6 linked regions of the Homo sapiens genome follow. The protein of the gene in region 6 interacts with the protein of the main gene of each other region in a biochemical or structural test. Each region holds a gene or a part of one and is shown on either strand. Other genes may lie near its edges. The genes, in order: SAP130, ARID1B, KHNYN, UBXN7, FNIP1 and CUL2.

Region 1 (4,957 bases), on a different chromosome or scaffold from region 6:
ATAAACTTTTAAATTGTTTTAAACTTTTTGACTCCTTTGCAATAAAACTTAGCTTAAAACACATATTGTTGGACAAATGTGGATACTGTTGGGCGGTTACAAAAAATATTTTCTTTCTTTGTATCTTTATTCTATAAACTTTGTTTTCTTCCTTTTTTTTGAGAGTGTCTTACTCTGTTATCCAGGATGGAGTGCAGTGGTGCGATCATGGCTAAGGGCAGCCTTGGTCTTCCGGGCTCAAGAGTTCCTCCCACCTCAGCTTCCCAGGTAGCTGGGACTAGGGGGTGTGCACCACTACACCCGGCTAATTAAAACACTTTTTTTTGTAGAGACAGGGTCCCACTATGTTGTCCAGGTGGGCCTCAAACTCCTGGGCCCAAGCAATCCTCTTGCCCCAGCCTTCCAAAGTACTGGGATCACAGGCCTGAGCCACTGAACCTGGCCCCTTATGTTCTATTAAAAAAAAATTTTAACTTTTTATACTTGTTAAAAATTAAGACACAGTACAGCCTGGGCAACATAGTGAGACCCTGTCTCTACAATTTTTTTTTTCCCCGAGAGGGAGTTTTGCTCTTTCGCCCAGGCTTGAGTGCAGTGGCATGATCTCTGCTCACTGCAACCTCCACCTTCTGGTTTCAAGCAATTCTCCTACCTCAGCCTCCCGAGTAGCTGGCATTACAGGCGCCTGCCACCACGCCCAGCTTATTTTTGTATTTTTAGTAGAGACAGGGGTTTCACCATGTTGGCCATGGTCTCGAACTCCTGACCTCGTGATCTGTCCACCTCGGCCTCCCAAAGTGCTGGGATTACAGATGTGAGCCACCGTGCCTGGCCTCTACAAAAAATTTTAAAAAATCAGCTGTGTGCAGTGGCTCACACCTGCAGTCCCAGCTGTTTGGGGGTGCTGAGGTGAGAGGATTAACTTAAGCCCAGCAGGTTGATCATGGCTGTAGTAAGCCATGGTCGTGCCACTGCACTCCAACCTGGGTAACAGAGCAAGACCTTGTCTCAAAAAAAAAAAAAAAAAAAAAAAGAACAGGAGAGAGGGAGAGGTATGCCCCGGTCTCTGAATGATGATGTGTGTGACTGGCTTATCTGAGTAACATTGGAAATTGGAATACTGGAAGCTGGCAGGGAACTGGAGCCTACTACTCAGCAAGGAGCAGGAATTGTGTGCCTGGTCCCTGTGGTATGAAGGGTTGTTTGCCTAGGAGACTTCATCTGAGGGAGCAGAGTTGGGAGGAGGGACTCTCGGTTAGGCCGTTTGAGGCTCCCCCTATTTCAGATGTCACAATATCACATAACACTGAATCTTAAATTTAGGTCTTACACCACAGTTGTTCCATATATTTTGGATCTGGATACCAGAACTTAGATATATTTCAATTTTAATCACATGTAACTGACACAGTGTGATATTACATAGCACACATAAAAATTCTATCATAACCCATGTTAGCTGGGAATGCTTCAGAGTTACTTTTAAAAAGTTCTATGAACTCAGCTATCTGCAGTGTCTTCTCCTCTCTTCAGCATGATGAACAACTGCTAGAACTCCACCTACCAGCTGTAGTAACTGGGCAGCACAGAGGTGGACTTTCCAGCCTTGAGCACGACAGGATACTCCTTTCTGATTAGCTATTTCCTGCAGCATAGCTTTCTTCTCCTCTGGAACCATAAAAAATAAAAATACATGTATTTCAGTGTTTAAAAAGGTAAATGATTTGTGTTCGAGCAGTGTAAATGCCATTATTTTAACAAGAATTTTATTTTTTTTTTGAGACAGTGTCTGGCTCTGTCACCCAGGCTGAAGTGCAGTGGTACAATCTCAGGTCACTGCAACCCCTGCCTCCTAGGCTCAAATGATTCTCCCACTTCGGCCTCCCAAGTAGCTGGGACTACAGGTGTGCGCCATCATGCTGGGCTCACTTTTGTATTTTTTGTAGAGATGAGGTCTTGCTATGTTGCCCAGGTTGGTCTTGAACTCCTGGGCTCAAGCAATTTGCCTGCCATGGCCTCCCAAAGTGTTGGGATTATAGGCATGAGCTGCCGTACCTGGCCATAAGAACTTTTTTATTTGAGGTAATGGTTTCATCTAGGAGAGGCAAGCCAAGAGGACACCAGGCTGCTTACTCCCCTCCTTTACCTCCACTAAGTGCTACCTCCTAAAGCAGGGCTGTCACTCAGAGAGAAGCTTGCCACGTGTCAAGCCAGGGCCTCCCCCATCTCTAAGGCCCTGGTTCAAACATTTTGCCGGAAGAAGTGGGCTGTAAAACAGATACCTTCTAATTTCTTCCTGAAGGAAGTGAGTCCATTTGCAAGAGTGTGAAGAAGTTCAAACCTAAAGGTGCTCCCCATAACAGTGGAGGCTGTGGCAAAGGGAATTGGGGGAGATTTGTGAACTAATGAAGATATAGCCTAGACTATGTGCAGGCTGGTTTGAAGGAAAGAACAAAGCATAAGACAGCTGGGGGAGCCTTTCCAAGGGCAGAACAACTTTATCAAATCAAGGAAGAACCCTTCTTTTTCTGTTTTTGAACACTGTTTATCATGAAAAGGTGTTTAATTTTGTCAAATTTTCTATATTGATTGATACAATCATGTGATTTTTCTTCTTTAGCTTTTGTTGTGGGTTGAATGGTTTTCCCCCCAAAGACATGTTGAAGATCCTTGGTACCTGTGACTATAACTATATTAGAATGTAATGTAGTCTGACCGCAGTGGCTCACACCTGTAATCCCAGCACTTTGGGAGGCCGAGGCAGGTGGATCACTTGAGGTCAGGAGTTCGAGACCAGCCTGGCCAACATGGTGAAACCCTGTCTCTACTAAAAATACAAAAAATTAGCGGGGTGTGGTGGTGGGCGCCTATAATCCCAGCTACTCAGGAGGCTGAGGCAGGAGAATTGCTTGAACCCAGGAGGCGGAGGTTGCAGTGAGCTAAGATCGCACCATTGTACTGCAGCCTGGGGGACAGAGCGAGACTCCGTCACAAGAAAAAACAAACAAAAAAGGTAATTTGGTTAAGAAGTCATACTAGATTAAGGTGAGCTGTAAATCCAATGACTGGTGTCCATACAAGGAGGGAGGGAGACAGAGAAGTAGAGAGAGAGAGAGAAAAGGAAGGGGAGAGAAGGAGAGAGAGAGAGAAAGGAGGATGGGAGAGGCAGAGAGACACAGAGAAGAATGCCATTTGAAGATGGAGGCAGGGACTGGAGTGGTGCAGGTGCAAGCCAGGAACACCAAAGATCGCTGGCAATCACAAGAAACCAAAGAGACAAGGAAGGATTCTCCTCTACTGCTTTCACAGAGAACATGATCCTATCAGACCTTTATTCTGGACTTCTAGCCCCCAGAACCATGAGAATAATTTGTACTGTTTTATGCCACCCAGTTCACAGTACTTTGTTATGGCAACCCTAGGAAATTAATAAGGCCAGTTAATATGGTGGATTACTTTGGTTTTCAAATGTTGAACCAGCTTTGCACAGCAAGAAAAAATTCTACTTGGTCAAGGTATATACTGCTGGATCTGATTTGCTAATATTTTATTAATGCATTTTTACATCTATATTCATGAGGAATATTGATCTGTCATTTTCTATATTTGTACACTCTGTCTGGTGTTGATAGCATGAAAATATTGGCTTCATAAAATAAATTTGGAATGTCCTTGCCTATATTTTAAAAGACACTGCAGAGAAATGGATCATTACCTGGTCAGCCGATTATCTTATCAGTATGTAATATCCCTCTGTGTCTCTAGCAATTTTCTTTCCTCAGAATTTTACTCTATGTGACATTAATATAGCCACTCCTGCTTTTCTGTAAATTAATTTCATATTGTGTGAATTAATTTTGTATTGTGTGTGTCTGTGTGTGTGTGTGTGTGTGTGTGTGTGTGTGTGTGTTTTGAGACGGAGTCTCACTCTGTCACCTAGGCTGAAGAGCAGTAGCATGATCTCGGCTTACTGCAAACCTCCACTTCCCGGGGATTCATGCAATTCTCCTGCCTCAGCCTCCTGAATAGTTGAAATTACAGGTGTGTACCACCATGCCTGGCTAATTTTTATATTTTCAGTAGGGACGAGGTTTCACCATGTTGGCCAAGCTGGTCTTGAACTCCTGACCTCAGGTGATCCAGCCATCTTGGCCTCCCAAAGTGCTGGGATTACAGGCGTGAGTCACCACACCTGGCTTGTATGTATTTTTCCAGTCTTTTACTGTCAATCTACCTATGCCACTGCATTCAAAGTGAGTTTCTTGTACACAGCACATAGTTGGACTGTGTTTTTTCACTGATTCTGCCAATCTGTGTTTAATTGGTATGTTTAGACTATTTACATTTATGACAATAACTAGTATGTAAGGCTTAGGTCTGCCACATTACTATGTGTTTTCTGTACTTCTTTTTTGTTTCTCTTTTCTTTCCTGTGAGTTTTTTTTTTTTTTTTTTTTTTTGAGACAGAGTCTTGCTCGGTCACCCAGGATGGAGTGTGGTAGCGGTGGTGCGATCTTGGCTCACTGCAACCTTTGCCTCCCGGGTTCAAGAGATTCTCCTGCCTCAGCCTCCTGAGTAGCTGGGATTACAGGCACCCGCCATCATGCCTGGCTAATTTTTTTGTGTTTTTAGTAGAGACAGGGTTTTACCATGTTGGCCAGGCTGATTTTGAACTCCTGACCTCCAGTGATCCGCCCGCCTCGGCCTCACAAAGTGCTGGGATTACAGGCGTGAATCACCGCGCCTGGCCTCCTGTGAGTTTTAGTCTATCTTGATGTATTTATATATAATTTATGTTATTTTATAGGTGAGGCAAAATAGCTGCACTAAAGTTTCATAGTCAAGAGGCACTGTGTAAAGGAGGTTAGTATGAATATATTGAAACAGAAGATTTAGGGATCATAAACCTTTCAGCTGTCAAGTTATCTTTCTTGAGATAGTTTTTGAAGAGCGAGTC
Region 2 (4,957 bases), on a different chromosome or scaffold from region 6:
TCATTTAAAAAACAGGAAAAGAAAATATAACAAATGTCTGCAGTTTTGTTTTCTGAATCATCTGGGATGAAATTATGCATGGCTTAAAATCGTTTTCATTGGGAGTCCTGATTTTTGTGGTACATACTTTTGACAATATTTTGGTAGTTTTTTTTTTTTAGTGGTAGCCACTCTTTAAGACAGCTATCACTTAGGTTTATGTTTATATTAATACTACATCAGTAAGTATATGCTAGGGACTAGCACATCCTTACCTTGAATCTATAATGAGGAACCTTAACCCCTCTTTGCTTTGGCTCTGCTTGTCTATATTTAGTCATGAATTTTTGGCAAGGCTTTTTATACTTGTTCCATTTTTCTCAATGTCATAGTGTATCAGAAGTGTGTTATGGATGTGGAAATAATGCAGATCACACTTGGACACTTTTACTAATATACTTAACCTCTGAATGTCATTTTCCTTTACTGAAATTGAAGAAAATAACGTCTTTATTCTGATATTTAAAAAAAAAAAACATTAATTCTGATTTGAGAACTGATTTTAAAAATGTAAGACAATGTAGAGGAAGACTTAATATAAGCTCATTTGATCGTTTTATTAGACACAGATACCTTTTAAAGAGAATAGGTGTAATAGAATGCGGTTGAGTTTTCAGTTCTATTTTTTATTAATAGACTTTATTTCTTTATGATTCTGGGCAGGGTGTATCTATCTAAAAAGATGACTTCTGATGTAATAGGAACACTTGCTTTCCTAGGATAAATTCCAATATCACAGGCAAACCGAAAAGATGATCATTTCATTTATTTAACCCTACCCTTTCCTAGGAGATGAGTGATTTGATGAACATTTGTTAGGGTTCCATGAAATTTTCTACTCCGTTTGGAGACTCACTGGGGATGTAAATTTTGGATGTGCTGGCCTAGGACTCTGTATTCGCTTTTTTGCCGGTGTCCTCAATCTGGAGGCTTTTCTTGCAGCTCTACACTGGACTGACACTGCTCAGCTCATGGGGTTGTGTGCTTTGATCCATGTGGGTGGAAAAGGGACTGATATTTCACTCGTGTCACTTTTGTTTTGGAGTGTATGTGTAGATTTGTAAATTTGAGATTGATATTTATGTTTGATAGAAGTGTGGTGTGTTGCATAAAATGACAGATTTATGGAGGCTGAAAATATTAATAAAACTTAATTCCATTTTTTTTTTGCAATATTTAGGTTTTCCAGTTGGATGTTATAAAATTTTTATGACATTTTACACTGCTGTTATTACTCAAGGGGCCGTATCCACCTCTTAGGCCTTTTTGGGATTGGGTGGTTTTGGTTGCATGCCTTTTCGGAGGTGCCCTTTCCTGAATGGGAGGGAGGTTTTTGCAGGTTCTCTGTGGATATGTAAAGTAGTGCCGCACGCTTGCTGTGTGTGCTTGCTTGAGGCTGAGGAATCCCAAACCCTGTTCCCTGTCGTGTCCGGGAGAGGCACCAGGCAAAACTGTTCCTCTACCAAGAATATATTTCTGTATCATAGATGTAGAACTATTATAAATATCTTTTCTCTAGCTTGGAGGCTATTTGAATGAGACTCAATGGCCCTTTTGGTTTAATTGGGTAATTGAGTGAATTAATTCTGATCTAAAAACTTGGTGTACTTTAGCAACTTTTTCTTCAGGAAATTTGGTAAAGATAAAATGACTTAGGTATCAGTCATTACCTGAGTGTCCTAAGTATTCATTTGTTTTTCCTTATACTGACATCTGAATGAATGGAATGATAGACATATACTATATAGTTTTAATTAGCAATTCACTTTGAGTGAGTGAATTTTTTCAGAGTAGAATATGTGTTTCCACTGTAAGTTTTCACTAAATATGTTCTATTTTCAAAATCTTTGACTTGGAGTAATTCTAAGAAAATTCTTTCCTTACATTTAGTTATTTGTTTTTCTTTTTGAGACAGGGTCTCACTTTGCCACCCAGGTTGGAGTGCAGTGGCGCGATCTTGGCTCACTGTGGCCTTGACCTCCCAGATTCAAGTGATTCTCCTGCCTCAGCCCCGCAAGCAGCTGGGACTACAGGTGCACGCCATCACACCTGGCTAATTTTTGTATTTTTCGTAGAGATGGGGTTTCGCCATGTTGCCCAGGCTGGTCTCGAACTCCTGACCTCAAGTGATCCACCCTCCTCGGCCTCCCAAAGTGCTGGGATTACAGATGTGAACCATCCTGCCAGGCAAGATTTACTTACTTAAATAGGATCCAGTAGGCAGTTTTCAAACCCACATCTGTATGGATCAATGCCAAGAATATTAGAAGGCTACTGAGTTTGACAGATGAACTAATGATGAAATTAACTTGTTTCTTGGATGAGATTTATTACCAGGCACCAGACTAAAGCCCTAAAATCTTAAGCCTATCTGGTTTATGAATAGCTACTCTTATTTCCATTATTAAAATCAGGTAGATGGCAGCAGAATCTGGAGGAGATTCACCCTCTGTTGACCATCTTCTGTAAGGTGCACTTCTCAGTGTCTTCCTGGGCCTTGATGAATGATGAGCTGGAGAACTAGACCAGAAGCCATTCCTTATCAGGTGACTCTGGAAGGGAAGCCATATTTGATGAAATCCAGAAGAAATCCTGGACCATAATGCTACATTTTTTCTTTTTTTGTAATGGGATGCTAAAAAATTAAATATATGGTTTTTTTTTTAAATAGAGGTAAGCTATACGTACATAACATACAACTTACCATTTGAACCATTTTTAGGCATACATTCCAGTGGCATTAAGTACATTGTCATTGTTGTGTGGCTGTCACCATCATCATCTATCCCCAGAACTTTTCCTTCTCAAACTGAAATAAAAATATTTTTCTCTTTCTTTTAAAATTGTTAGCTGCTAATGTGTATTGTAAGTAAAATAATCTTGTTTTTGTAACCATTAATCTTATCACTTCATAGTTTGTGAGTAAATTCTTCCGCAGACATTCCATCAGGATGCTAATGGTTTTTTTGTTTGTTTGTTTTTGTTTTTTATTAGTACATTACTTCCTCTCAATTCTAACTTTGGGGTAATCCTCATAGAGTTTGAGGATCTCTTTGGAGATGTGTATTACAAAGGTTAGTAGTTTCACTGCCAGTTATGTTATTAAAATTTTGAAAAGCAGCTTTTTGGAACCTTTCTAAAGTTTAAAGGTTGAGGGTATTTGTTGAGAGAAACCTGGGACTTGGTTAGATAATAGGGTGTGGAAATGAACTGTTACCATTCTCACTTTTCCCTTGCTTTTCTTCCCTCACCTTTTGCATTTGTAGTCTCTTAAAAATTATTAATTTTATTTTCCCACTATTAGTGAAAATCATTTATAGTGATATTTTTTTCTATTCTTTCTGTGTTTGAAGTTTCTGGGCATCTCACCCCTACCAACCCAGAGCAAACCCAGAGTCTAGGTGGTGCCATGTCCTTTTCCATAGTGTTCTCTGCCACCAAATTTGTGCCTCCCCCTCATGTTTTTACTTTTTAGTCCTCTGCAAAACTTCAGAAATTCTTTGTATGTGGAAAAATTACTAAATTAAGATGATTGACCTTTTAGAATTACATTTTAAAGGCAGCTGTGAAGGGAGACTTCTAGATCCTGCCTAGTCTCATGAACAGGCGTCTTTGGTTTGTGTAAGGTATTGGAATTGTACTGGAATTGCTGCTGATGCTGATAGGTAGTCACATCTTTGTAAGATCAGTTATGTACTTTAACACCAGCTTCCACAGAGAGGAAATGAACTGTTACTTAAGAGCTTGTACTGGGAAGCAATAGTTATTTCTTTAAGGTGTAAACATTTAGCATTTGTGTATGCAGTGAGGTATATGTTAGATAAATATCTACTCCAGACAGTCAATTGGCAAATATTTATTGAGCTCCCACTTTCTTAATCAGCCCTGTGCCAGAGACAGACAATAGCTGGGGTCTGGGGATTGCTGCTGTTGGTGTGCGGATCATGCAGAGATACTGCTAACGCTTGCTCCCTCCATACCTGGATCGTGGTATTGCTGACATCATTGACTTAGAACTGGCTCATTTAAACAAATTGCAGATAGCAACCATGTGGGTCAGCAGTCTATTTGGCCTGCTTTTTTTTTTTTTTTTTCCGGTGGGGCAGTATATTTTGGCAAAACAAAATCTGGTCAACAACAATTGTAGGTTGTTGTGATATAGTTGATGTGATCTAGTGACTCTTTTCCATTTCTACCAATCAGTTACTGGCTTTGTGCCAGAGCGAAATATAGATTCACTACCGAGAATAATAACTAAAAGAAGGAAAATATAATCACTTTCAAATTTATATAGAATGGTCCTTTTTCTTTTTCTCAGTTTTCTACATTACATAGATTCTTGGAAAAAAAGTTAAAACAGTCTGTTCAGATTTAGGAAGATACTTGGATTGCTGGGGTATTTTTGGTAACTGTTTAGATAATGTATGCTGGCTGAGGAGTAAATTCAGCTACTGCTTCTGGGTCCTGAAATAAACCTTTCAGAAAGCGAGGCATTGATGATTAGTGGAGGCAGTTCCAGAATTCTTAGTATCTACTGTTTCTTTTTGTGATGAGCATCTTAGAAGTTAAACCACTCACCATATTTCATAGCCTTATATTGAAATGATTGTTAATTCTAAAATTCATTTAGAAGCTGGCGTCTAATTTGTGAAATCTTGAGAACCACCTTTTAAGATTCAGTGACCATATATCAAGCTACACACCCATTTTAATGCCCTTTAAATTTTCTGTTACCACTGGTATATTTTATAATAAATTCACTCTAACTAATGAATTATAAATGACCTTGGAAATAGGAATGTGGAACATTGCTACTGCTGAGCAAGTATCTTTCTGAAGAAGCAGACATAATTCCGAGGGGACTGGCATGTTTGCTGTGTATTAGTTTATTTTGGTGATTCTGAGGATTTGTGAGCGA
Region 3 (5,619 bases), on a different chromosome or scaffold from region 6:
GAGATGCCACAGCTCTACTCTTCTCTTAAACTTGGGTGTTTGGCACAGGGTCCCATGCAAAGAGGTGGGATAGGAGCCAGAGGGAGTCTCTCTCCTGCCTCTGCTGTTTCTGGGGCAAGAGAGGGCAGAAGAAAGTTGTCAGGGGCTGGATTCTTGTGCTTGAAAGACTTGGGTCCTCAGAGAGGGAAGATGAGGAAGCCAGAGAAACTTGAGTATTTCCAACCACCCAGTAGATTCCCCCGACGCAGGCGCAGAGACACTCGGTCCCCAGGGTCCAAGGGCAGTAGCACAGAGCTGGTGGCTGCCTCCCGGGTCACGTCAGGATCATTGGCAAAGGCTGAGATGACAGGCCACGTGTTCAGCATCAGGCTCACCTGGGGAGGGGAGCCCAGTTAGCCCCCATTCCCCAGCCCTTAGCTCAGGACCCCCCACTTTCCCAGGAGCTTCCTCTTGGGAAGCTGGGTTTTAATGGGCTCTCCCGGGAGGGCTGAGGGGCGGCCAGCATTGGACTCTGCACATCCTCCACACTCAATGCAAGGCAGGCCCATTCCTCCCCTGGTCCTGGCCTCCAGGACACAGGTCAATGGAGAGTCCACCCGGAGGTCAGCTGGGCTCCCCTTCTTCCCCCTCCCCACCCTCCTGAGCCGGGGATGGGGGCCAGTGCTGAGGTCACCTGGACAGTTTGGCGGTTGTACACCTTCACCACATGGAACCGGAAGCTGTAGACACCCCGGACAGGGGCTACGAAGGAGCCAGAGGCCCGGTCAAAGCCACCGCCCTCGTTCACCAGGACCTGGGGGAAGCAGAGCCTGCTGAGTGGGGCTCAGGAAATGCCCATGGCTCAGGGGTACCATGGGGACTAGGGGCAGGGGCAGTGAGTAATGAATAGAAGGAGTGGCAAGTAGGAGTGAATAGGAGTGAACAGATTCAAAAGAAATGGTGAGAAGGGGCAAGGAGAGGGCTGCGTATGGGTGGAGGGAGGGGAAACCGTCGGTGGGGTGGTGGGGCAATAGGCCAGATTAGTGAAAGATGTAGGAAGCTGTTTTCTTAAAGCCTCAGAGACAGCAAAGTGGGCTTGGACAGTTGCTTCCAGGTCCTTGCAGGGTCTTTCCAGGTCCCCTGGACAGGGGTAGGGGGATTACCTGGTCGAAGTAGATGGCCCCACTGGTGCCATTGCCGGTTTCCCCTGCTGGCTCATGGTGGTGGCTTCGGACCGCAGCAAATGCCACTCGCCCAGGGGGTGCCTCTCCCAGGGCTGCTCCCCCGGGCCCCCCTGCAGCAGCTCGGCCAGGCTCACAGACCACCAGGCACTCCCCCTCCAGCAGGACGGGCTCTGACCCCTCCTGGGCCCACCCGGCCCCCAGGGCCAGAAGCACCAGAACCAAGGGCAGCCCGGGACTGTGTAGGGGACCTGGTAGCCAGTGTGGCTTGGCTCCCAACATGGCTGAGGGGCTCTGCAACCCACAAGTGCCCCGGTCTTCTGCCCCTCTTCTGTTTCCGCTCCTCTCCCTGGATTCTCACCGCCGGCACCCTGATCGTCTGCCCTCTCTAGGCTCGCTGAACCCCCTCTCCATACCTGTGTCCCAGCTCTGTCCTGCCTCCCACTCTTACTCCTGCTGTCACTGCAGTTCCCTCCTCCTTGGCAGAGCATGCAGTGACAGCAGTTGGGCTTTGGGAGAGAAAGGAGGGATGAAGCCGCCTGCCCACTGGACGGGAGGGCTGCAGCCAGAGCTTCAGGGCAGCCCTGCTGGATGGGACAGCACTGAGGGCTGGACCTGGGGGGATGGAGAACATGGTATGTGTGTGTGACGGGTGTGACAGAATGTGTGAGTGTGTGCATATGCCAGAGGCAGCCCCTCAACCCCTTCCTCCTACTCTTCCTCTCTTCAAAATCCCCCACAAATCAACAGCCCTTCTTCGTGGCATCTTTCCGTTTGTTGGAAGAAAGGGGTACTCCACCACGGGTACCCTCCGCCTCCCGCCTCCCGCCTACCCCCTCCGCCACGATTGCTTTGGTGGAAAGTGCTTGGGCCTAGAGCACCAGTGGGCCAGTCACGCTGCCTCTTTGGTCGGCCACATCTTTATTCGCGGGAAACAACTTTCAACGCATGGTTCCCCTTTCCGAGAAGTAACTGCGCAGAATGCGCGAGGACCCTGAGGGCCGGGAGACAGACGGGAGGGCTGGTGAGAAGCGCAAGGGGCGAGCCCTGGAGCCGCCGAGGGGACTAGGCCGAGCGGGCCCGTCGGGGCCTCTGGGCGCGGCGGCGGGGTTGGGAGGAGGGCGCGCAGCCGGGAGGAGCTGGGCTGACTCCGCCCCAGGCCAGGAAGTGACTCAAGAAACAGTTTGCGTGCGATGTGGACAAGAGAGGTCCCCGCTGGGTGAGGAACCCGGGAAGGCCCGCCCAGATTCGGGCCCCCTGCCCTTGTCCCCTGGGCTGGGGGCGCGGGCAAAGCGGGGGCCTGGCGGGCGCTGAGAGGACCTGAAGCCGGCGCGGGCGGCGGAGGCGGTAGGCGCGCCCCTCCACCGCGCCCGGGAGCGGGGAGCGGGGGCCGCGGTGCGGAGTAGGCCCGGCCCGGGGTGGCTGCCCCAGTCCGCGGTGGGCGGGCCCGGCCCGGCCCGGCCCCTGGGCCCTGGGCGGTGCTCCTGGCCCGACGGAGAGGGGCAGCGGACGGCTGGGGGAGGGGTGGGAGTGGCTTGAACCTTGGAAATGGCAGACCAGGGCCCCCAGAGGACAGCCTAGTTCAATCCCCTGCTGAGGATTCGTCCTTAAGAAGCTTCAGAGTGCCCCAGGAGACTCCTTCTGGCCTCCAGGCCGAGCTGGAGCCCCCCCACCCTTCTTGCTCCGGACTGTGGTCATCCTTTTCCAAAGCCCAGACGCCCACTCTCGATAGACAGCCTTGTTTACCGGGACTTCCTCTCCGGAGAGGCCTGCGTGACATACACCCTCCCTACCTCCAGTGGACTCAGATGCTTGTCACCTCCTGGGGCTGTTTACCAGAGCCTTAACTAGGTGCGACCTGTTGATAGCTGGTGTAGTCCCAGGAACCAGGATTTGGATGGAGGGTACAATGAGGCTCTGAGCTGCCTTCTCCCCTTCCAGGGCTGGGGGCAGCAGCCATGCCTACCTGGGGGGCCCGCCCCGCGTCCCCAGATCGCTTTGCGGTGTCTGCGGAGGCTGAGAACAAGGTTCGGGAACAGCAGCCCCATGTGGAGCGCATCTTCAGCGTGGGGGTGAGCGTCCTTCCGAAGGACTGTCCGGACAACCCCCACATCTGGCTGCAGCTGGAGGGCCCCAAGGAAAACGCCAGCAGAGCCAAGGTGAACGCCTTCTCTCCCCCATCCCTCCAGGCACCAAGGACGCTTTCCCCCAGGGCGGAGGAGAGCAGGGCCGAGGAGAGCAGGGAAGAGGAGGGGCCTGGGGAGGATCTCCACTTCTTGGTTGTCTCACTGGCAACCTCAGTGCCCCTGAGTTTTGAGGGACTTTCCAACTCTATATTTGTTTTCAGTTTCAGCTTAATTTCTTCTGTGATGGCCCAGGCTGGCAAAAATCATTCTGTGCTCTTTGGGAGAATAGAGATATCTGGCTGAACAAGTTGGCCCCACCAAGGAATGCACTGTGGGGTGGGAGGCTGGGCCACATTGCTTCCTTTGGGATTAGGCTGGGGTTCCAGGATGGCTCAATCATGTACCAGCTTTGTGATGGGAGTCTCAGTTTCCTTATCTCTAAAATGGGAATAACATCATGTGGATACTCCAGACATCCTGGAGCTCAGGAGCGAGCAAGGAGCCAGGAGGGGTGATCTGGGCCAGTTAGTTTACTTTTCCTGACCTTCCCTTCCTCCCAACCAGGAGTACCTGAAGGGCCTCTGCAGCCCAGAACTGCAGGATGAAATCCACTACCCGCCCAAACTGCACTGCATCTTTCTGGGAGCCCAGGGCTTCTTCCTTGACTGCCTGGCCTGGAGCACGTCAGCCCATCTGGTGCCCAGGGCGCCAGGCTCACTGATGATCAGTGGCCTGACTGAAGCCTTTGTCATGGCTCAGAGCCGGGTAGAAGAGCTGGCAGAGCGGCTGAGCTGGGACTTCACGCCAGGACCATCTTCCGGAGCCTCTCAGTGTACTGGAGTGCTGAGAGACTTCTCTGCCCTGCTGCAGTCCCCGGGGGATGCCCATAGAGAGGCTCTGTTGCAGTTGCCCCTGGCTGTCCAGGAGGAGCTGCTGAGTCTGGTGCAGGAGGCGTCTAGTGGGCAGGGGCCAGGAGCACTGGCTTCTTGGGAGGGGCGGAGCTCAGCCTTGCTGGGTGCTCAGTGCCAAGGAGTGAGAGCTCCCCCTAGTGACGGCAGGGAGTCCCTGGACACTGGATCTATGGGACCCGGAGATTGCAGGGGAGCAAGGGGAGACACTTACGCTGTGGAGAAGGAGGGAGGGAAACAGGGTGGTCCCAGGGAGATGGATTGGGGGTGGAAGGAGTTGCCTGGGGAAGAGGCGTGGGAGAGAGAAGTGGCCCTCAGGCCACAGTCAGTGGGTGGAGGGGCAAGGGAGTCAGCACCCCTGAAAGGGAAGGCCCTGGGGAAGGAGGAGATAGCTCTGGGAGGAGGAGGGTTCTGTGTCCACCGTGAGCCTCCCGGTGCCCATGGCTCCTGTCACAGGGCAGCTCAGTCCCGAGGAGCCTCCCTCCTCCAGCGGCTCCACAATGGGAATGCCTCTCCTCCGAGGGTGCCCAGCCCTCCACCTGCACCGGAACCCCCATGGCACTGTGGAGACCGGGGTGACTGCGGAGACCGGGGAGACGTGGGGGACAGGGGAGACAAGCAGCAGGGCATGGCACGGGGTCGGGGGCCTCAATGGAAACGAGGCGCCCGAGGGGGCAACTTGGTGACTGGCACACAGCGTTTCAAGGAGGCCCTGCAGGATCCTTTCACCCTGTGCCTTGCCAATGTGCCTGGCCAGCCAGACCTCCGCCATATTGTCATTGACGGCAGCAACGTGGCCATGGTGTGAGTACCTGGTGGGGCTAAGGGCCTAGGAGAGGGAGGATATGTCCTGAGGGGCTGGCATTGTAGCCAGGGTGCCAAGCCCCTCCTCTGGCCGACCCCCTCCCACTACAGGCATGGCCTCCAGCACTACTTCTCCAGCCGGGGCATTGCCATTGCTGTGCAGTACTTCTGGGACCGTGGTCACCGTGACATAACTGTCTTTGTGCCTCAGTGGCGCTTCAGTAAGGATGCCAAAGTCAGAGGTGAGTTGGGCCTGGTCTTCAGTGTCCCAGGATAGGCTCTGTTTCCACTTTGAGGAGAACCCTATTATGTTCTTTTTCAATAGAGAGTCACTTCCTGCAAAAGCTGTATTCCCTCAGCCTGCTCTCCCTCACACCCTCACGAGTCATGGATGGCAAGAGGATCTCCTCCTATGATGACAGGTACTTGCTCCTCTCCTGGCCCCAGGCTTGATATTGAAGGAGCCCTATGGAAGACTGAGGGAGAGAGAAAAGCTCCTGGTGGTTTACGCTGTTTCTAAGCCTTGGTGGTGGGTAAGGGGCCAGTTATTCCTCTGTGTGCCTTATGATTGGGTAGGTAAACCTGCCCTGCAGGTGTGATGAGATGAACTGTAGACAACCA
Region 4 (4,957 bases), on a different chromosome or scaffold from region 6:
TAAGATCAATAAAACTACTAAGCCTCTGGCCAGACAGTCGGGGGAAAAAAGGGAAGCCACAAATTCCCAAAAACAGAATTAAGAGAGGGGACAACTACAATCTCTACATTCATTCATGGCATCACGAGGGACTATAATGAACTCTGACAATATAGTAAAATGAACAAATCCCTAGAAAGATACAACTTGCTAAAGCTTATCCAAGAAGAAACAGATACCAAGTAGTCACGTATCTACCGATAAGATTGAATTTGTAGTTTAAAATTTTCCACCAAAAAAAAACTCTAGGCCCATGTAGCTTCACTGGTAAATGTCATCAAACATTAAGGAAGAAATAACAACAATTCTACAGACACTACTGCAGAAAACAGAAGAGGAAGAAATACTTCTCAATTCATTGTGAGGTCAGCATTAACATGTTACCAAAAGCAGAAAACGACATTATAAAGCATTACATGGAAGAAAGGAAACAACAACAACAAAATGCTCTCAAAAAAACTATAAATCAAGCAGGAGAACTGCTTGAGGCCAGGAGTTCGAGACCATCCTGGCCAACAAGATTTCTATACTATCCCTTAGGGCTTTTCCTTAAATAGGCACTTTATTATAGGTGATAACTGAAGGAAGTGTTCCTCACATCTTCTAAAACTATTTTTAGGCTGGGCATGGTATGGTGGTTCATGCTTATAATCCCAGCACTTCGGGAGGCCAAGGGAGGAGAATTGCTTGAGCTTAGGAGTTTGAGATCAGGCTGAGTAACATATTGAGACCCTGCCTCCACAAAAAATAAAAAATTAGCCAGGCATGATGGTGCACACCTGTAGTCCTAGCTACTCAGGAGGCTGAGGCAAGAAGATTGACTGAGCCCAGGAGTTCAAGGCTAGCAAGTTTTTTTTTTTTTTAAAGTTCTCTCAAGGCTGCAAAGACTACAGTGAGTTAATATCATGCCACTGCAGTCCAGCCTGGGCAACAGTGTGAGACCACATCTCAAAAAATACAATACAATACAATAAATACAATACAATACAATAAAAATGTTGCTAGGTGTGGTGCTCACACCCAGAATCCCAACATTTTGGGAGGCTGAGGCGGGAGGATTGCTTGAGGCCAGTTTGAGACCAGCCTAGACAACATACGGAGGCCTCCGTCTCTACAAAACTTTAACAGCTTAGCTGGCATGGTGATGCACATCTGTGGTCCCAGCTACTTAGGAGGCTGAGGTGGAAGGATCGCTTGAGCCCAAGAGGTGGAGGCTGTAGCGAGCCATGATCACACCACTGCACTGCAGCCTGAGAAATGGAACAAGATCCTGCCCAAAGAAAAAAACAGGACGGGCGCGTTAGCTCACGCCTGTAATCCCAGCACTTTGGGAGGCCGAGAAGGGCGGATCACTTGAAGTCAGCAGTTTGAAACCAGCCTGCCCAACAAGGCGAAACCCCATCTCTACTAAAACTACAAAAATTAGCCAGATGCAGTGGTGTACGTCTGTAATCCCAGCTACTTGGGAGGCCAAGGCAGGAGAATCGCTTGAACCCAGGAGGCGAAGGTTGCAGTGAGCCAAGATCACACCACTGCCCTCTAGCCCTAGCAACAGAACAAGACTCTGGCTCAAAAAAAGGAAAAAAAAAAAACCAACAAAACAAAACTATTTTTATCCCTACTGCTATCAAAGCCAAACAGCCATGAAAACCAATGTGAGATTGCTGTATCTTTGCAAGTTCAGTCTCTTATTTGCAACCAATCTTGATACCAATTATCAAACATGTCTACCTAGTAATAGTATATTCTAGAAATTAAGTATAGAAGTAAATTCTAGGAGGGCCAGAGAGCCAGGCCCTAAAGCTATATTAACCAATAAAAATGCTCAACTATACCATGACAGTTGTTTCAGCAAAAACAAAAAACACCACTTCCAGCCGGCTGTGGTGGCATGTACCTGTAGTCCTAGCTATTCGGGCAGTTGAGGTGAGAAGGCTGCTTCAGCCCAGGAGTTCTAGGACAGTCTGGGCAAAACAGCAAGATCCCACTCCAAAACAAAAAACAAAACACACAAAAAAACCAACCACTTTCACTGCTATTTAGACCTGGATATCAGAAGCCCTCCCAGAGCTGCCCCTCAGGAAGTAGACACCTTTACCACTAGGCTTGCCAGGTCAGTCCTCCTGCCCAACCTATTCACATTGCTTCCTTCTAAATCCAGATCCTGGGGCATCTGCCTGCACTCTAGCTGCAAGACAGACTGGCAGGAGTATGAGTATCATGATTTCACCAAGAAGATGGAACTCTCATGTGGGAAATTATCAAAATATAAGGAGGATATCTAAGATGCTATAGCCACAGTGATAGTTGTCCACTAGTTAGATTATCTTTACCATCTTAACATCGAACATTTTATATAAGATGCTTATGACCAATTACATTTATTTTCCCATCACCACCTCCTAATTATACTTACTGAACGGGCACATTTTTTGGGGGGACTGCTAGAAAGTCCATCCAGTTGTCCATGTTCACCCAGAAATCCCGTCACTTGGTCCAAGAAAGAAGATACATCTAACTGGTGCCATTCTACTAGCTTCTGACCTAAGGATTAAAAACCAAGATCTATAAATAAATATAATATCTAGAATCCTTCTGAACATTCTCCAGGATCTATAAATATAATACCTAGAATCCTTCTGAACACTCTCATTAAGTATCTCTTTCAGCATATGCATAGATTAAAAACCTGGATCTATAAAGGTAATATCTAGAATCTTTCTGAACATTCTTATTAAGTATCTCTTTCAGCATATGCATAGATTAAAAACCAGGATCTATAAAGGTAATATCTAGAATCTTTCTGAACATTCTCATTATCTCTTTCAGCATATGCATACATTAAAAACCAGGATCTGTAAATATAATATCTAGGATCTTTCTGAACATTCTCATTAAGTATCTCTTTCAGCACATGCATAAAGTGTACTGTAAAGACATATCCTCTCCACCAGCTTATGCTACATAGTGTCTTCATAACCTAGAAGTCACATCAATTATACTCACCTAACAGATTCCCACCCGTAATGATAGGGCAACTATCTTATCTGCTGCTATCACTTACTGCCATTTAGGAAGAAGAGATTCAGACAAAGCAATATCTATATAAAACACCATCAATTAATAAAACCAGCTCCACCCTCTGCTTCTCAGGTGGGATTACAACTAGTATCTGGGCAATCTTAATATTTTAATGATAAAAAAAACTTTTGTCTTGTTTTGTTTTTTTGAGATGGAGTCTCACTCTGTTGCCCAGGCTGGAGTGCAGTGGCGCGATCTCGGCTCACTGCAACCTCCACCTCCCGGGTTCAGGCCATTCTCCTGCCTCAGCCTCCCAAGCAGCTGGGACTACAGGTGCCCGCCACCATGCCCGGCTAATTTTTTTTGTATTTTTAGTAGAGATGGGGTTTCACCGTGTTAGCCAGGATGGTCTGGATCGCCTGACCTCATGATCCGCCCACCTCGGCCTCCCAAAGTGCTGGGATTACAGGCATGAGCCACCACGCCCAGCTGGTAAAAAAACTTTTAAAAAATCCCTTAAAAAAGGTAAGATGAACATATCAGTTATTCTTCAAAAGAACAGAACTGCACAAACATAAAATACTACCATCTCCCAATGTTGCCAGAAAAAGATGTCCTAAATACATACATCAATAGATGTTTAAATAATTATAAAGGGAAAAAAACGAAACCTTCACCTAAATTACTGCAATTCTGAAAACAGATCCAGTCAAATATTAAAGATCAATCATTTAGGTAACTGAAAGACAAGTAATAGGTTAAAAGCTGCGTGCTGATATAAATCTTACCTGTCCGTGGGTCCAATATGGAAACATAGGGGAAATCCCCTAACTTATAAAACTGTATGTATCTCTGACCTTCCTCACTGTCATGATAAACCTGTTAAATCATTGATATAAAAAAAAAAGTCAGCCTCTAAGAAAAGAACCAACTATAACCTTCTTATACACCAACATCAATTAGCTCTCCAAATATACCTCCGGCCTATGTATTAAGATCTCACTCCTACACTAAAAAGAAAATAAATCTGGTTTGAACTCCTTCAACTTCCCACTTCCAGCACTCTCTGGAAATTTACCATAAACATATTGACCCATTCCTCCTCCTTTCCCAGTTCAGATGAGGTATTATTCTTCCTGCTCAAGTTATCTGTCAACTATGTCATTCATAACTCTCAACCATATACATCTTAATAAATCACAATATATTAAGATTATGGGCCAGGCATGGTGGCTCACGCCTGTAATCCCAGCACTTTAGGAGGCCGAGGCGAGTGGATCACAAGGTCAGGAGATTGAGACCATCCTGGCCAACATGGTGAAACCCCGTCTCTACTAAAATACAAAAATTAGCCGGGCCTGGTGACAGGCGCTTGTAGTCCCAGCTACTCGGGAGACTGAAGCAGGGGAATCGCTTGAACCCGGGAGGCAGAGACTGCAGTGAGCTGAGATCGTGCCACTGCACTCCTGCCCAGCGACAATGCAAGACTTGTCTCAAAAAAAAAAAAAAAAAAAAAAGATTATGGCTCCACATGGTGGCTCGCACCTATAACCCTAGCACTTTGTAGGGCAGAGGCAGAGGACAGCTTGAGGCCAGGAGTTTGAGACCAGCCTGGGCATCTCCACGAGAAGTTTTTTTGTTTTTTTTTGTTTGTTTGTTTGTTTTTAAATTAGCCAGGTTTAATGGTGTGCACCTATAGTCCCAGCAACTCAGGAGACTGAGGTGGGAAGATCCCTTGAGCCTATAGGGGTTAGAGCCTGCAGTGAGCTATGACTGCACCACTGTGTTCCGGCCTGGGTGACAGAGCAAGACCCTGTCCATTTATTTAAAAAAAAAAAGAAAAAAGAAAAGAAAAGAAAGAAAGAAAAAAAGATTATAAGCTCAAGAGTCCAGCACA
Region 5 (4,957 bases), on a different chromosome or scaffold from region 6:
CTCTAAAAAATAATCTGGAAAATTCGCCAAGATGTTAACGATAGGGTAGCAACAATTGTGCAAAAGTAGAAATGGCCTAACAGGGAAACTGTTACTTAAATTGAGGAGACCTACTAAAATATATGTAAGAACCATTTACAATAACTTGAGAAATGTGTATGTGACAATGATGTTTTTTATTTTACTATTTGAGATAGGGACTCACTCTGTTGCTACAGTGCAGAGGCACAATCACAACTCACTACAGCCTCGACCTTCTGAGCTCAAGCACCCCTCCCACCTCGGCCTCCCTAGTAGCTGAGACTACTAGTGTGCTCCCCCATGCCTGGCTAATTTTTAAATTTTTTTTTGTAGAGACCGGGTCTTGCCATGTTGCTCAATCTGAGTTTTTTTAAATGGGCATATAATTTGAAAAATGTAGACACAGCACAATCCCTACCAAGTAAAAGCACAATATGCATAAAAAAGGCCTAAATAAGATTTTTCAGCAATGAGTTACTGTGTTCCCTTTGGGTGGCAAGAATGTCGATTTTCTTGCTATTCTGCTATATCCAATTTTCAGAGCTTTATGTTCCAAAACATCCCATACATCCTTCAAAATGCAGTCCAAATGAAACTTCTTCCCAATAGGAAGTCATTTCACTTTCCCCCAAATTTCTAAAAAACCTTTGTCCTTCCTTTTTAGCTTAGATTCTAATATTTCACAATTTACTATACATATTTGTATCGTATATACTATCTCAGTAGCAACTGACAAAAGTGATCACTCCTTCCTTGAAATACTTTCTGTACTTGGCTTTCCCCAAAAGAATACACTCTTGTTTTTTCTCCTAATTGAATAGCCAATCCTTTTCCTTCGCCTCTGCTGGTTCCTTCTCATCTCGTCAAACTCTTAATGTTAAAATGCACCACAACTCAGGCTTACCATTGCCTGTCCTCTCTTGCCAATCTCCATCAGTTTCATGGCTTTAAATACCATCTATACACTGATGACTTCTCTGGTAAACTCCAGACTCATAAAAACACAAGGATGTCCATATGCAAATATAAAATACCCATCTTCCTTTATCAAATCTGTTTCGCTTGCAGTCTTTCTCACTTCAATGCTGGCAACTTCATCCTTTTAACTGCTTGGCTAAAAAAATCTTAGAGTCAACCTTAATGATTAGTCTACCAGCTAATCAAACTGGCTGTTTTCAAAATATATCTAGAATCCAACTCTTTCTTACCAATTCAATCACTAAAGTGGTTTGCGTATTCATCATCTGGATTACTGTAACAGTATGCTAATTGGTCTCACAACATCTACTTTTGCTCCTAGAAATCTATTATCCACCAGCAGTAAGAGTGATCCTCATAAATAATGTCCTTCTTCCTCCACTGAAAACCCTCCAATGGTTTCCCATCTTTCATACTTTTGTAAGAATAAATGCTAATGTTCTTACAATGGTATCTTATAAGGTCCTACATGATCTAGTCTCACTTCAACCTAGGCACCTTGGCCTCGTAATGCTGCTTAAGTATCAGGCTTACTCCTGCAATAAGGCCTTTGCCCCTGCCTGGAATATCTCGTTCCAGATGGTTGTAGCTCACCTGCTCCGTATTTCTGGACCACATTCACATGTCCTTTAATAAGGGGCATTCCTGACTAGCCTATAAAAATTAGTAATCCTTCCTTGCAGGATCCCTTATATACCGTTCTCCGTTTTATTTTTCTTCACAGGACTTATTACATACATCTATATTCATATGTTTATTTGTCCCATGAGGTCAGAAGTGTTGCTTTTATCACTTCTCTTTAGTTGGTAGAACGGTGTCTACCACATTTTAGTCCCTCAAATATTTATTTACAGAACAAATGGATGAATGATCTTATATCTTTTACTAGACAGTAAGCACCTTAAAAAGGGTTCAATCTATTTGCATCCACCAGAGCACTTTATAGGACACATGCACAACGTCTGTTAATTTTTCTGCCAAATTAATAAATATAATGCTTAATTGGGAGAATAAGATTTTAAAAGGAAAATACATAAATAAATAACTATGCTTACCTGTTCTATTGCACTCTTTAATTTGTTCATGTGGCTTTCAAAGAGAGGAAAATGTGAAAAAAAGAATTCATTAAATTTGTTATTTTCATCTTCATCTTTGGACAATGAAAAGATTACCCCAATTGCAATCTTCTTTTTCCGCACAATTCCTGGGTTAGGGCCACAGCTTTCATCTGAGAGATTAAAGCTTTCTTCTATAGACCTTAAAAATAAATGATTTTTTATTAATTTACAAAAGTAAAAATAAATTCACAATTTAATCTTCTTGCTAATTAAATGTAGGTAAGCTAAGTCTTTTGCTGTTTTATCAAACAAACCTATAATTTCATACCAATTGTATATCTCTTTAAGAAATCTACTGGCTATTCTTTCAGGTTCATGTTCTTGTAAGAAATTTTACTACAGAGTCAGATTGGGAACATTTTTTTGTCCAATTAGAAGTAACTAAAGAAGTAGATAATCCCAATTCATAATCAACCAAAAAGTGGCTAAATTTTAAGATTTATAGATGAGTCTGGTACAATCTTTTCCCTGTTCTAGGCCCTTCTGGTGTCTGTTTTTGATTTCAGGAGTAAAGTCAAAGATGAAGGAATAAAGGAAATAAAAAAGAGGAGAAAACAAGAACTTTTAGTATCTACAGTTGTACTTAATGTAGATTAAAAACTAATCTTTCAAGAATGAATTACCTTGCCAAAATAAAAACATGAAAAACTGAAATATCAAAACATGTAGTATATAAATCAAAGACCTAAACATAAAACTCTTAGAAGAAAACAAAGGGTAAAGGCATCATGCATCATGACACTGATTTGGCAATGGTTTCTTGGATATAACACAAAAGGCACAGTCAACAAAGGAAAAAAAAATAAACTGGACTACATACAAATTTAACCTTTTGTGCATCAAAGGACACTATCAATGGAGTAAAAAGGCATCCCACAGAATGTAAAAAAAATTTACAAATCATATATCTGATAAGGGATCAATATCTAAAATATATACAGAATTTCCAGACATCACCAACAAAGCAAAAAAATGCAGTTATAATATGGGCAAAGGACTTAAATAGACATTTCTCCAAAAAAGATATACAAATAGCCAATAAGCACAAGAAAAGATGATCAAGTCAGATGTGGTGCCTCATGCCTGTAATCCTAGCACTTTGGGAGGCTGAGGCAAGTGGATCACTCGAGCCCAGAAGTTCTACTAACCTGGGCAACATGGCGAAACCCCATCTCTAAAAAAAAAGAAAAAAAAAAAATTAGCCAGGTGTGGTGGCAAGCCTGTAGTTCCAGTTATTTGAGAGGCTGAGGTGGAAGGATCACCTGAGCCCAGGGAGGTTGAGGCTGCAGTGAGCCGGGATTATGCCACTGCACTCCAGCCTGGGCGACTCAAAAGGGAAAGAAAAGAAAAGAATAGAAAAGATGTTCAACTTCACTAATTATTAGATAAATGCAAATAAAATCCACAATGAGGAACCACTTCAGACTCATTAAGATGGCTATTATCAAAAAAACAGAAAATAAGTGCTGGTGAAGATATGGAGAAATTGGAACCATTGTGCATTGCTGGTGGGAATGTAAAATGGTACAGTAACCATGGAAAACAGTGTGCAGCGTGACAGTTCCTCACAAATTTAAAAACAAAATTACCATATGATCCAGCAATTCCACTTCTGGATATATAACCAAAAGTATTGAAAATGGGGACTCGAACAGATACTTGCACACTCATGTTCAGAGCGGCATTATTCACAATAGTTAAGAAGTGGAAGCAACCCAAGTGTCCATCAATAGACAAATGGATAAACAAAATGTGGTATGTATATACAACGGAATGTTATTCAGTCATAAAAAGGAATGAATTTCTGACACATGCTACAACATCGATAAACCTTGAAAACATTATGCTAAATGAAATAAGGCAGACACAAAAGGACAAGCAGTGTATGATTTCATTCATACAAGGTATGAATGAAAATTCATAAAGACAGAAAATAGAATGGTGGTTACAAGAGGAAGAAAAGGGAGAAATGAGGAATTACGTTGAATGGATACAGAGTTTCAGCTGGGAAGAGGAAAAAGTTCTGGAGTTGGATGGTGATGATGGTTGCACAACAATATGAAGGTATTTAAACAAATGTCACTGAACTGTACACCTAAAAATGGTTAAAATTGTAACTTGTTATGTATAACTTACCACAATTTTAAAAATGTAGTAAATTTTAAAAGTTTTCAGTTTCAAACTTAAAATACACAGAATACAAGTCCAGGTTCTAAAAAACCCATATAAAATTGTGTTTAAGGAACTACTCAATCTTGTTCTGTGTTTAAAGTTCCAACTTACCATCTAGGAAATACCCCATTTTCCAAACTTGTTGTTTGGCTGCGTCGCCAACGTCGCTGGTAGCTGCTGGCACAACTTCGGGTAAGTGAGGAGTTTGGGGAAGGAAATGGAGTGATCAGCAAGCTGCTGAGAGATGCTGTTAAGTCAGAAGAACAACAAGTATAAGTCAATAATGACTAAGCATAATGACAAATTTCTTTTTAACAAAATTACAAATAGGTTAAGTTAAACTTTATTTTGCTTCATGAGCCTCAAAAATGTTCATTAAAAGAACACATCCTTCTTGTAGCAAGGTCTCAGAGGAGAAAAATCATATATTAACAATGTATCAGCAAAAAACTCTGAGACAATCCCCTTTTGGCATTCCCCTCTAGGGACTCCAGAAGAAAATTATACTTTGCAACAAGGCATTATCCCTTTGGCCACTGGATTGACTGTCCCCTAACTCAGTTGAATCCTTTTAGTTCTTAAATTAAAGGAAATCTGATGCTATTCAAACTTAATGCAGCAGCTGGATTTTAAGAACAAGCTATTGAAAATAAGTGTCTGAATGGCAT
Region 6 (4,957 bases):
TACAATAGAGTGGTCTAAGTTGACTTCAGATAGTTAAGACACCATAATTAGTTTTTTAAATGCCACTCAATAGGCTTAGAGCAGATTTCCTTCCAAATGCATAAAATGAGAAAATACTGAAGACCCAATAAAGAGCCTTACAGCAGTCCCCTGCCTTATCCAAGGGGATACGTTTCAAGATCCCCAGGAATGCCCGAAACTATGTTTTTTCATATACATACATACCTATGATAAAGTTTATTATATAAATCAAGCACAGTAAGAGATTAACAAAAACTAGCAGTAAGATATAACAATTATAACAATATGCTATAATAAAAGTTACATGACCATGGTCTCTCAGAATATCTCACTGTGCTGTACTCGCCCTTCTTGTGAAGGTGTGAGACAATACAATGCCTATGTAATGAGATGAAGTGAGGTGAGTGACACATGCATCGGAAGGTCGGCATTGGGCTACTTACTACTGACCTTCTGTATTCCTGAATATGTGTTACAGTCCCTGACTTAGAGTAAATGGTTTGGTGTCATTCGTCTCTGGGGATCCCTTGCTGAGTCTTCAAATAGGCTCAATGCTTTCTGGCACAGTATGTTGCCATCAAGTGGAACTTGTCTCTGCTCATGTCTTCCACCCACCAGTGTAATGCCTTTTCCAAATTAACTAAGCACTTATTACACGATATAACTATCACTTTTACAGATTGAGATTTGACAGCAAAACTAGTAAGAATTTCTTTCTTCACAATTTCTTTTCTTTCATAATTGTGAAGAAAAAGAAATTCTTATTAGACCTGCTTACAGTAGGTCTTAGCAATCTCAGTCTATTATTTTTTTCTTTCCTCATTGAGAACTTTCAACTTTTCGTGTAAAGGAAGCACTCTATGGCAGAAGCCTCTCTGGTGTATCCATATTGCTAGGATCACTACTCCTGTACTTTGGGGGCCCTTACTAAGTAAAATCAGGGTGACTTGAACACAAATACTGCAAAACTGCAACAGTCTATCTGATAATCAAGACAGCTACTAAGTGACTAATGGCAGGAGGCATCCACAGCGTAGAGATGCTGGACAAAGGGATGATTCACGTCTGAGCAGGACAGTGCAAGATTTCATCACACTACTGAGGACAGTACAGAATTTAATTATGAGTTATTTCTGAAATTTTCCATTTAATATTTGCAGACCCCATTGACCGTGGGTAACTAAAATGCAGAAAACAAAACTGTGAATAAGGGAGGCAGGGAAGTGGAATACCATATTAACTTGGCATTATTTTCCATTTCCATAGGTGGGCCCAAAGCTGCCAATGGTGCACAATGACCAAATATGTTGCCATCATTTAATATTAAAATAAGCTCCAAGAATGCATCTAAACATTTTCATCTTGCTGTATCAAATGAGCAAGCCACTGGATGTAACTAAGAATGCCCTTTCTTATTTGGAGGTTAAGGGTGCAATGTTTTTTGTTGCACTAAGGTTTGACCCACAGAGCTCTAAGTACTCCATAAACAACATTTCCATCATGACTTTCTGGCTTTAGAATTCCTATTTTTATTTATTTATTTATTTATTTATTTATTTATTTATTTATTTATTTTTGAGACAGGGTCTTGTTCTGTCACCCAGTGCAGTGGTGTGATCCTGGTTCACTGCAGCCTTGACCTCCTGGGCTCAAGTGATCCTCCCGCCTCAGCCTCCTGAGCAGCTGGGACTACAGGCACACACCACTGCACTGAGCTACTTTTTTGTATTTGTAGAGATGGGGTTTCACTATGTTGCCCAGGCTGGTCTTGAACTCCTGAGCTCAAGCTTCCACCAGCCTTGGCCTCCCAAATTACTAGGATTACAGGCGTGTGCCACCGCACCCAGCCTAGAATTTCTAGTAGGTTTTTTACAAAAACAAATGAGTTGGGGAAAAAAGAGTGAACAGACATATGGTGTGTGCCAAAATGTATACTGCAGGAAAACATCTTGAAGTCTCAAAAAGGGTGACACGGTGGGGAGTAGGGAATGTATTCATAATACAATAAGTTACAGAAGCCATTTGCACCCAGGTGTGGTGGCTCACACCTGTAATCCTAGTACTTTGGGAGGCTGAGGTGGGAGGATCACTTGAGCCTGGGAGTTTGAAAACAGCCTTAGCAACATAGACAGACCTGGTCTTTAAAAAAAAATAAAATTATAGTAGCTGGGCCCTCTGGTAACATGCGCCCGCAGGGAGTCCCAGCTACTCAGGAGGCTAAGGTGGGAGCTTGGCTTGAGCAAAGGAGACTTCAAGGTTACATTAAGCTACAATGGCACCACCACACTCCAGCCTGGGCCAAAAGACCAAGATCTTGTCACAAAAAAGCAGCTACCTGCTTCCAAAAATAAACCCACTGCACCAGAATAAAAGACCCCTCTCTGCAATGAACTTTAGACTCCCATAAGACTGCACAGCCTATACTTTGTTTCTTAAGTTTTCACATCGCTCTTATCAGCTTGAAGTTTAACGCCATTTTCACTTGCTTTCTCATTTTTTGTTCAATAATCTAGTCAACGAATTTAAGAAACTGACATTTTTAAAAAAAACTATTCTCATATATGTATCCCCGATCTCAGGTAAATTAGAGAATTTGAATTTCTGAGTCCTTCATGACTAGGCAAGCCCATCGTGTATGAATACTAGACAAAGCTAGAACCAACCAGCCTTTACACAAATTATCAAAACATTGAGAACAAATTTTTTGGCTGTGTGCAGTGGCCCATACCTACAATCCCAGCACTTTGCGAGGCCAAGATGGGCAGACTGCTTGAGCCCAGGAGTTCGCAGCCAACCTGGGCAACATGGTGAACCCCGCCTGTACAAAATACAAACAGATCAGCCAGGTGTGGTGGCATGCACCTGTAGTCCCAGCTACTAGGGAGGCTGGGATGGGAGGATCACTTGAGCCCAAGATGTGACCGCACCACTACAATCTACTGTATTTGCTGACTGCTATATAATACATTAAATCCTGCCTATGTCCTGACACTGCTATAGAAGACACAGGCATGGAAGAATAATTAAAAAGGGGATACAGTTATGGCAGATGCATATCAATTAACCCTCTAGCAACTTTCTTGACACCTCCTGTTTACAATCCCAAAGAGAGCCAGTGAGTTGGATCAAGTTTGTAATCCCAGCATTTTGGGAGGCCAACGTGGGAGGATCACTTGAGCTCAGGAGTTCAAGACCAGCCTGGGAACACAGCAAGACATCATCTTGACTGAAAAAAAAAAAAAATTTGCCTGCAGTGAGTTATGATCACACCACTGCACTCCAGCCTGGGCAACAGAGCCAGACCTTGTCTCTCAAAATAAAAAGTTCCGATATATGCTACGACAAGGATTAACCTTGAAGATATTACGCTAAGTCAAATACACTAGACACAAGGTGAAAAATATCTTATGGTCCTATTTAAACAAAAGTATGTATGTGGGCAAATTCATAAAGACAGAAAGAAGGATGAGATGTTATCAGATGCTGGGGGAAGGGGAAATGGGGAGCTACTGCCTAATGGTTGTACAGTTTCTGTCTAGTAACGAAAAAGTTTTGGAAATGGTGGTTTTGGAAATGGTGGTGAGGGTCACAATGACACTGTAAATGCAGTTAACACCACTAAACTATACCCTTAATGACGGTTAAAATGGTAAATTTTATGTCATGTATGTTTTAAGTGCTTAAAAACTAGATCACAGGTACAAAGTTCTGATGTCAGAGAAGTATCTGAATCTCACTGCAAAATGCTCTCTAAAAATTTTTAAATGGATGCATTCTAATCAAAATAATACTTGGTACTATGATGACAAAATACTATTTTTGGTTCAGACAGACTTTTATCAAATAAAAGAGAAATATCTTGAGATAAAATTTTTCTGAAGGCTCAGGACTACTTGGGGATCTTTCTCTTGATGTCACATTATTCATTATTTTGGTAACTATACACTTACATAATTACAAAGGTATCTTTGGCTGAGCATGGTGGCTCATGCTTGTAATCCCAGCAGTTTGGGAGGCCAAGGCGGGCAGATCACTTGAGGTCAGGAGTTTGAGACCAGCCTGGCCAACATGGTGAAACCCCATCTCTACTAAAAATACAAAAATTAGTCGGTGTGGTGGCAGGTGCCTGTAATCCCAGCTACTCAGGAGGCTGAGGCAGGAGAATCGCTTGAACCCAGGAGGCAAAGGTTGCAGTGAGCCAAGATCGAGCCACTGCACTCCAGCCTGCATGAGAGCAAGACTCCATCTCAAAAAAAAAAAAAAAGAAAGAAAAAGAAAAAAAGAAAGCTATCTTCTATTTCCCACCGTCAGAAAATAGCAGTTATAAATAAAGGGGAAAGGCAAGCATTAATCCTGTGGTAATGAGTTGTAATCAAAGGTATCATTTACAAACTCATGGTTTTGAATACACAAACACACATATACATGCAGATAAAAAGATATAAACATAGATGTTTGTGTATGCATGGTTGAATATACATATATTTCTAGCTCTGTTCACTGAGAAGGGCCTAGGAGGAATGACACCACAGTGGCAATGGGCACACATAGAACTTAGATCTTGGTTTCTAAATATCATTCTCCAAAAAAAGGAACCAGAGCTCCTCCTTGGAAAAGTGATTGATTCCAGGGCTGAAGCAGGAAAAATACAAGTTGAACCTAGAACACCTATGATGTCAGAAAATAGAAGGTGCTTTCCCCCCACAAAGAGGGTGGGGGCATATCGAAAGGACACAAGTTAAACTAAAGGTCAAAACTGGAACAAATCAGAGCAACAAAATAATGAATGATAGGATTAGATTATAAACCATAGGCGGGTCACAGTGACTCATGCCTGCTGTAATCCCAACACTTTGGGAAACCAAGGCAAGAGGACTGCTTGAGCCAAGGAGTTCAAAACCAGCCTGGAGCATAGCCTGTACTTTCTCTCCTTCAA

What was found.
Region 1: the proteins of CUL2 (region 6) and SAP130 form a complex in vitro, tested with the Homo sapiens proteins (one study listed by BioGRID).
Region 2: the proteins of CUL2 (region 6) and ARID1B form a complex in vitro, tested with the Homo sapiens proteins (one study listed by BioGRID).
Region 3: the proteins of CUL2 (region 6) and KHNYN form a complex in vitro, tested with the Homo sapiens proteins (one study listed by BioGRID).
Region 4: the proteins of CUL2 (region 6) and UBXN7 form a complex in vitro, tested with the Homo sapiens proteins (one study listed by BioGRID).
Region 5: of the proteins of CUL2 (region 6) and FNIP1, one has a biochemical effect on the other in vitro, tested with the Homo sapiens proteins (one study listed by BioGRID).

The regions. Positions count from the first base shown.
Region 1 is NC_000002.12:127,943,892-127,948,848, forward strand, and holds part of SAP130 (histone deacetylase complex subunit SAP130), read right to left. Parts: intron 1,669-4,957; coding exon 1,565-1,668; intron 1-1,564. UniProt on the Homo sapiens protein: Acts as a transcriptional repressor. May function in the assembly and/or enzymatic activity of the mSin3A corepressor complex or in mediating interactions between the complex and other regulatory complexes.
Region 2 is NC_000006.12:156,782,831-156,787,787, forward strand, and holds part of ARID1B (AT-rich interactive domain-containing protein 1B), read left to right. Parts: intron 1-4,957. UniProt on the Homo sapiens protein: Involved in transcriptional activation and repression of select genes by chromatin remodeling (alteration of DNA-nucleosome topology).
Region 3 is NC_000014.9:24,427,613-24,433,231, forward strand, and holds the start of KHNYN (protein KHNYN), read left to right. Parts: upstream 1-2,341; 5' UTR 2,342-2,507; exon of another isoform or gene 2,508-3,011; intron 3,012-3,101; coding exon of another isoform or gene 3,102-3,118; coding exon 3,119-3,319; intron 3,320-3,850; coding exon 3,851-4,998; intron 4,999-5,109; coding exon 5,110-5,240; intron 5,241-5,323; coding exon 5,324-5,420; intron 5,421-5,619. Other genes in the region: CBLN3 (cerebellin-3 precursor), read right to left, coding at 177-374, 674-793, 1,143-1,442.
Region 4 is NC_000003.12:196,365,573-196,370,529, forward strand, and holds part of UBXN7 (UBX domain-containing protein 7), read right to left. Parts: intron 3,940-4,957; coding exon 3,849-3,939; intron 2,584-3,848; coding exon 2,456-2,583; intron 1-2,455. UniProt on the Homo sapiens protein: Ubiquitin-binding adapter that links a subset of NEDD8-associated cullin ring ligases (CRLs) to the segregase VCP/p97, to regulate turnover of their ubiquitination substrates.
Region 5 is NC_000005.10:131,702,011-131,706,967, forward strand, and holds part of FNIP1 (folliculin-interacting protein 1), read right to left. Parts: intron 4,537-4,957; coding exon 4,401-4,536; intron 2,257-4,400; coding exon 2,055-2,256; intron 1-2,054. UniProt on the Homo sapiens protein: Binding partner of the GTPase-activating protein FLCN: involved in the cellular response to amino acid availability by regulating the non-canonical mTORC1 signaling cascade controlling the MiT/TFE factors TFEB and TFE3.
Region 6 is NC_000010.11:35,078,885-35,083,841, forward strand, and holds part of CUL2 (cullin-2), read right to left. Parts: intron 797-4,957; exon of another isoform or gene 714-796; intron 1-713.